Homo sapiens: one gene and its partner. The protein of the gene in region 1 interacts with the protein of each later gene in a pairwise test. Each region holds a gene or a part of one and is shown in the gene's direction. Other genes may lie near its edges.

Region 1 (3,752 bases):
ATCGTCTGCAGAACTCCCCTGCCCTCTGCAGACCCAGCTGCCCGGGCAGGTCATGTCTTCAAATATTGTATGACTTGGGACTGCTGAAATTGGAAATTTTTTCCCTTATCTAATTTCCCATCTTTTTATTATTTCAGCCACAGTGTCAGAAATACATTTCATTTTTGAAAACATTTTATTTTCACATTTTATTAATTTAGGAAGGCCTTCTCTTCCAGGCCTGGGACCCACATGAGTGAGGTTTGCCCAGCCTCAGTCTGCAGTCAAGTTCATTTATTCTTGTGTGTGTTTTCTTAGCAAGTTCCTAGCCATTTTCCCATGTTGGTCTGGCTTCCCTGTGGGCATTTCAAAGGCAGGGAAGGCCTCCTCCTCCGAGGCTCCTCAGCATCAGGGGGACCCATCAGGGCTGGTGGGCAGGGTCTAATGTCCTTCTCCTCACAGGGAGCCCGTTCCGCGTGCCAGTGAAGGATGTGGTGGACCCTGGGAAGGTGAAGTGCTCAGGGCCAGGGCTGGGGGCTGGTGTCAGGGCCCGGGTTCCTCAGACCTTCACAGTGGATTGCAGTCAAGCTGGCCGGGCGCCCCTGCAGGTGGCTGTGCTGGGCCCCACAGGTATAGAATGGCCGGGGCAGGGAGGAGGGAGGTGGGGCGGGACGCCCGGAGGCTCTGCTGACCCTGTGCCCCTTGCCCAGGTGTGGCCGAGCCTGTGGAGGTGCGGGACAATGGAGATGGCACCCACACTGTCCACTACACCCCAGCCACTGACGGGCCCTACACGGTAGCCGTCAAGTATGCTGACCAGGAGGTGCCACGCAGGTGAGGACCAGCCCTGGGCTCCTGTGCTGCGGCTGAGCTCTGGGGTGCTCCTGCTGGGGTGGCACTCAGGATCACTGCTGGAGTCCCCTGGGAGAGCCTCTCCCAGCTCTCAGCCTCGTCCAGTCTCGCCACCCCATCCCGCTCTTCCCCGGGGCTCTCTGCTGTGAGGCTTTCCTGCCCCAGGAGCTTTTACGGCAAACCTAGCGCCTTAGGAAGAGTGCAGGAGGCCTGGGCCAGGGCCTCCTCCTGGACCCTCCCACAGCACCTTCCTGGGGAATGGAGACGTACCCTGGCTCTGTCGAGGGAGTCCCAGAGTGCCCCCACCCCCAGACATGGAATGTCATCGGCTTCTGGGAACTGGTCCCTCCTCCCTGCCCCACAGTCCTCCCTCCTGCCCATGTCTATGGGGAGGACTCTGGCTCAAGATGAGATCACCCCCCACCGCCCCGTCCATGCCACCCAGCCAACTGTTTATCCCTTCTGCTCCTCAAGCCCCTTCAAGATCAAGGTCCTCCCAGCTCATGATGCCAGCAAGGTGCGGGCCAGCGGCCCAGGCCTCAACGCCTCTGGCATCCCTGCCAGCCTGCCTGTGGAGTTCACCATCGACGCACGGGACGCGGGCGAGGGGTTGCTCACTGTCCAGATCTTGGTGAGTCTCTGTGCATCCCACCCCGCAGGTCATGCTCCAGGCACAGGCGGGCCTTGACCTCTGCTTCTCCCTCAGGACCCCGAGGGTAAGCCCAAGAAGGCCAACATCCGGGACAATGGGGATGGCACGTACACTGTGTCCTACCTGCCGGACATGAGTGGCCGGTACACCATCACCATCAAGTATGGCGGTGATGAGATCCCCTACTCGCCCTTCCGCATCCATGCTCTGCCCACTGGGGATGCCAGCAAGTGCCTCGTCACAGGTGGGTGCCCACCCGCTGCCCGTGCCCTGCTCACCACCCAGCCCCTCAAAGCCCCTCCAGAACCCTGGCCTGGTCCCCAGGGGTCTGCTGGTCGGAGAGCACACATGCCCTAGCCCTGGCCCCTCCCTCCCTCACCCCCGCCCAATGCCCCAGCCCACGTTGAGCACCGCCTGGCCTCACACTCTTCTCTCTTTCCAGTGTCCATTGGAGGCCATGGCCTGGGTGAGTGCCCTTTCTCTCCTCTTCTTGGTGTGGGCCAGGGTGGTTGGCGGTAGGGGGCGGGCAGCGGGAACAGAGAGGGCTGGCTCCAGCCCACCAGCTCCCTGAGCAGGATCTCCCGCATGGCAGGTGCCTGCCTGGGCCCTCGAATCCAGATTGGGCAGGAGACGGTGATCACGGTGGATGCCAAGGCAGCCGGTGAGGGGAAGGTGACATGCACGGTGTCCACGCCGGATGGGGCAGAGCTCGATGTGGATGTGGTTGAGAACCATGACGGTACCTTTGACATCTACTACACAGCGCCCGAGCCGGGCAAGTACGTCATCACCATCCGCTTCGGGGGTGAGCACATCCCCAACAGCCCCTTCCACGTGCTGGTAAGTTCTGTAGCCACAGCAAGACTAGATGGCTGGGGAGGGGGGCCTGGCCCTTTTAGCAGCAGCAGGGATCCCAGATAACTGTCCCCAAGGAATCCCACTTCTCTGAGGGCTCCTGGGGCCAGAGTGCTCCAGGATGGAGCCTTAACTTTCCCCACAGCACCCCCGAAGTGGGAGGAGAGCATGGCCCTGCCCCCTGCCCAGTGCTGTCAGCTGTCTCTGGAGGAACCCGCTGTGCTCTCCACCATCCCCAGCTCCATCTCCCCAGAGGCTGCCCTGCAGGAGGATGAACACCCAAATTATCACCCAGCATTTCAGGTTCCTGGGCCATTCTCTGAGTCAGCCCCTAGGCCTGTGAGGCTGCCACACCCTGTGCCCCCGTGCCTTGCCTCCCCAGGCGTGTGACCCCCTGCCGCACGAGGAGGAGCCCTCTGAAGTGCCACAGCTGCGCCAGCCCTACGCTCCTCCCCGGCCCGGCGCCCGCCCCACACACTGGGTACTGCGCCTCCCACCAGGCGATGTCCTCCTCCTCCTCCCCTTCCTTCATTTCTTCTCTCTACTCCTCTGCAGCCAGGGCGGGGACATGGTCTGGGGGCCTCTTGGGGAGCAGGCAAGAGTTAGGCTGGGCAGATGGAACCCCACTTGGGCACAGCACTCCTTCTCTTGCAGCTGACGCACCTCTCCTGCCACGCTGGTTTCATGATTAACTACCTTGTTCTTTCCTCACTCTCCAGCTTCAGTCATAGCATGGGTCAAACTCCTGGGCCTTCCCCAGTCACTGACTGTTCCCTCTCACCTGCTGCAGGCCACAGAGGAGCCAGTGGTGCCTGTGGAGCCAATGGAGTCCATGCTGAGGCCCTTCAACCTGGTCATCCCCTTCGCGGTGCAGAAAGGGGAGCTCACAGGTACTGCCCTGTGGCTCCCAGGCATGAGGGCTGAGGGGAGAAACCCTCTTCCAGGCCCAGTCCTGTGTCTTAATGATGAAAACAAAGGCCCAGAGAGAGGAAGTGAGCTCTACCCAGGGTCACACAGCAAGTTGGGCAGAGCCAGAACTCAGGTGCAAGCCATCTGTCCCCAGTTCAGGGCTCAGGCCACTGCCACAGGCTGTCTCTTGATGCCTGGCTTCTCGGGTGGCAGCAGAAGCACTCAGGACCAGGCCTGGGACAGCAGGGAGGTTGCAGTGGGGGAAACCAGGGTCTCCACGTAACTGTGTCTGCCCTGCAGGAGAGGTGCGGATGCCCTCGGGGAAGACGGCACGGCCCAACATCACCGACAACAAGGACGGCACCATCACGGTGAGGTATGCACCCACTGAGAAAGGCCTGCACCAGATGGGGATCAAGTATGACGGCAACCACATCCCTGGTGAGTTAGGGGCTGGGCTGGGCTGGGGCTTGGGTGAGAGGAGCAGGCCGTAGCTTCAGTCCTG
Region 2 (3,752 bases), on another chromosome or scaffold:
AAAAAGCAAATCAAACATTAAAAGGCAGGAACAAACAGATTTACAGTAGATTATTAATATAGCCCCTGACTACTGAGAATGGTATCATAAAAGAGGACCTACTTACCTTTCCTAAATCATCCCTTGATCCCATTATAGCAAAAACTTTAGCCTTGACGTACCATGAAGGCTATCACATGTAACACACGGTAACCTGGGTTGTATCTTACAAAGACCTAGAGAAGAGGCAAAGCTTGAAAGACAAAGAGTAAGCAGAACTAAATTCTTCCTCGAGTGTAGTATGCTTAGAACCTGCTGTAGGCAAAATTGGGAATTTAGCAGGTTGTCCTGGATGTCTTCCCTACTTGGCTGGTGAGGTATACCTCAAACTTTTAGTGCAGAGAGACCTCAAATCTATTATTTCCTTTTCCATGCCCTAATCAAACCCTGTTCTCCAGCAGAACCAAATGTCAGTCACATATACCACATTTAAAATTGCTTAGAATAGATAGGCTGGGCATGTGGTTTATGCCTATAATTCCAGTGCTTTGAGAAGCCGACGTGGAGGATCGCTTGAGGCAAGGAGTTTGAGACCAGCTTGGGCAACATAGCGAAACTCTGTCTGTCCAAAAAATTTTAAAATTAGCTGGGTATAGTGCTGCATGCCTATAGCCCTAGCTACTTGAAAGTCTGCAGAGGAAGGATCTCTTGAGCCCAGGAGTTTGAGGCTGCAGTGAGTTCTGATCATATCACTGCACTCCAGCCTGGGTGACAGAGTAAGACCCTGTCTCTAAAAAAAAACTAATAATAAAATAAAATGCTTGAAGGAGTGTCTTACTCATAATAAATGCTATATATTGGCTATTATTACTTTTATCCTATCACTTGCATTTGTATTTTAAGTCTCTCTAATTTAGATGGAAAGGTTTTGTCTGTATTACTGGAATTTGAAATATCAGTGAACAGATGTTGAAGAATATTTTGGGAGACTCCTGAAATAAGACTTTGTAGGCAACCACCTACTCACCAAGTCTAGCATGCTTTTTCTACTAAGGGCTGCACGCCCAGGCAGAAATTATCAAGCTTTCTTTGAACACCAAAGAAAGGTACACCTACTTGGCCAGCTGTGAAGGATTTTATATGGCTCATATGTGCTCAAACATCTATTTGCTGGATTCTAATATACATGTTAATTCAATCAAGATTGGGGTATCTACCCATGAGGGAGGGGAACTGAAGCCACCCCATGGAGATAATTCTACTCCCTTGGCCCAATCCTCATGCCACCTACCCTACTTCACCACATTTGCTGATTCGACATTTTATTCTTCTGCAATTATTTACTTCCCTGCACAAAAATGGAAATCTAAATACCATGATGGTCTCTGTGACAAAAAGTGAAAGGAAACTAACTGTTAGGAATAAAGGGAGATGAACATGCATTGACAGCTCTAATTATATAGATTGCTTATTTGTTTGGTTGTTTCTTAAGTGTTTCAAAACTCTTTCAGAATAAAAGTACTAGGCAAAAGGGGCATATGCCATACAGATTCAGAAAACTTGCTCAAGAAACACCATCATGTTTTTCCACCTCCCTACCTTCCCAGTGACATGTCACTATGACCTCGGTCTCCTGCTTTGCCCAGACTGCCCTCCACCTCGGAACAAACTGCTAGTACTGAGAGACCTCAAATCTATTATTGAATCCTACTCTCATTAGGCAAAAGAAAAAAGACTTCAGATGAAGAATTATGCAATACAAATCAATTGGGAGCCCATCTATCACTGGTCTTATTCCTGGAGAAGTCTTAGTATAATAGATAGAAGAACTCCACTCTTGAAATATTATTTTCCCTTTAGTCCTCTCTCTTAAACTGGGAAAATTCAAAGTCCCCACCATAATAAAGAAATAAGAGGGTTTTTTTTCTATTTTTCCCATTTCCCTATTCACTGCCCTTCCCTCACATGAGCTTGCTAAAGTTCATAGTCAAAATTCACGTCTGAAATAAAGAGGCTTGCAAAAGAAGCTCATGTAATCCCACTCCTTAAATACCACTAAGACACGTGAGATATTGTTTAGATTGTGGACTCTTACTTTGACATGCCAGCATAGGTAGATGGACAGGCAAGCACATCAGATGTCACTGTTTGGCAGCTGATAAAAGTCAGTGGTGCTATAATACTAAGCACAGAGCCACTAGATTAGTCTGTGAGGGAAGGAGATGCCTCTTCCTTCCCTTCAATAGTGGGTTAAACCCAGCTGGCACCCTCTGGAACTACGGGTAAGTCCCTTCTTTATTCCTACTACACTTTTAGGTCTTGTTTTTGTTTTTTGTCCAAATCAGATGAGTGTATACAAAGATGATTTTCAGATAAAAAGTTTGAAAGCCACAACATTATAATGGTATTACACAAAAATTTAAAGAGAAAGCGACTCATTCATTTCATTGAGACTGGAAGGCATTATACAAATGATAGAAGGAAAGATAGCTGTGTGTCATTATTTTTAAATCACCATTTTTCCTTGAAAAGGGACACTTGATCTGATGTAATTGTGGTGATGTCTTATGAACGCAACATATCCTCTATCAGTCTTCTGTGCAAGTCTATGCTATATTAGAGACAGGAAAAAAATGTTAAGATTTTTTAAAAAGGAGACTGAATAGTACTTTATTTATAAAAATCTTTGAAATTCATTTAACATTATTTGGAATAAAATGACCCTGTCATATAACAGAATCTATTATAGAATTAAATTGTTGAACAGTAACTACAAACATAAAGAAAATACAGGATCACCTGCGTAAATGTCTGCATAAAATTTTGACACATGGATAAAATGAAACTTATGAAATAACATATTTTTAATTGGGCTTTTAAAAATATCACTAATTATTAACAATGTAGGCCAATATCAACATGTACAAGACAGTTGCCATTCTGAAAATATATGTAAAGAAAAAAAGAGAACTGTTTCTGGAAAATATCTACTATTTCATAAGCGGTTTATTCCTTGCTATCTGAAATGAGTCTCAATAATGTACCTGCCCAGAAAGAAATTTAGGAATCAAACTCTGGATTCAATTCTGCAACAGACTGAATAAACCGATAACTACAAAACTACTTGCCTTGAAATAGACTTTTTTTTTAGATCTACTCAAGGCCCTCCTTCAGGATGTTTTTCCCCAACAATTTAAATGCCTAAAGTAGTTCATTTCTAAAATGCATTCTAGTTTAATGTATTTGTGTTCATAAACTTGAAATTAAGGAATATTTAACTTTTTAAGTATTCTTTCTCAATAGCGTCTTTCTCTTGGCTGTTTAGTTGCATTTCTGTTTTTTCCTAAAATTGCTAGTTTTAATTTAACTCTAAACTACATAGGCAACTTTGAAATACTATTTTTTGAAGGTATCCTATTATTTAGGATGAAACTCTTTGGTCTGGAAAAGTTTTATTAACATTTTATCCAAGACAGTAACTAAAATAATTAGAAGACTTCGTTTCAATGATGACAAACAATTTGGTTAATTTTTCAGTTAAAAGTTTGATTTGTCATTATCTCAGTATTGGCTTATACCAGATGAAACAAAATAGGCAAATGTATTTTGAATCAATTTATCTGATATTTTCAATGAAAACAGGATTAGTGTGAAAACAATTTATAGGACTAGTCTTTGTGTGTAATGTCTATATATAGTCCCGCTTAGGTTTACCATACTAATGGAAAAAAAATCAGAGACAAATATAATCCTTCAAGGTTGATTTTCATGGC

What was found. The genes of interacting proteins can lie anywhere in the genome.
Region 2: the proteins of FLNC (region 1) and MYOT interact in binary tests that used the Homo sapiens proteins (3 or more experiments, as listed by UniProt).

Annotation. Positions count from the first base shown.
Region 1 is NC_000007.14:128,847,256-128,851,007, forward strand, and holds part of FLNC (filamin-C), read left to right. Parts: intron 1-441; coding exon 442-609; intron 610-689; coding exon 690-813; intron 814-1,305; coding exon 1,306-1,462; intron 1,463-1,537; coding exon 1,538-1,727; intron 1,728-1,925; coding exon 1,926-1,949; intron 1,950-2,075; coding exon 2,076-2,323; intron 2,324-2,720; coding exon 2,721-2,819; intron 2,820-2,906; exon of another isoform or gene 2,907-3,128; coding exon 3,129-3,228; intron 3,229-3,547; coding exon 3,548-3,688; intron 3,689-3,752.
Region 2 is NC_000005.10:137,865,693-137,869,444, forward strand, and holds the start of MYOT (myotilin), read left to right. Parts: upstream 1-2,167; 5' UTR 2,168-2,261; intron 2,262-3,752. UniProt on the Homo sapiens protein: Component of a complex of multiple actin cross-linking proteins. Involved in the control of myofibril assembly and stability at the Z lines in muscle cells.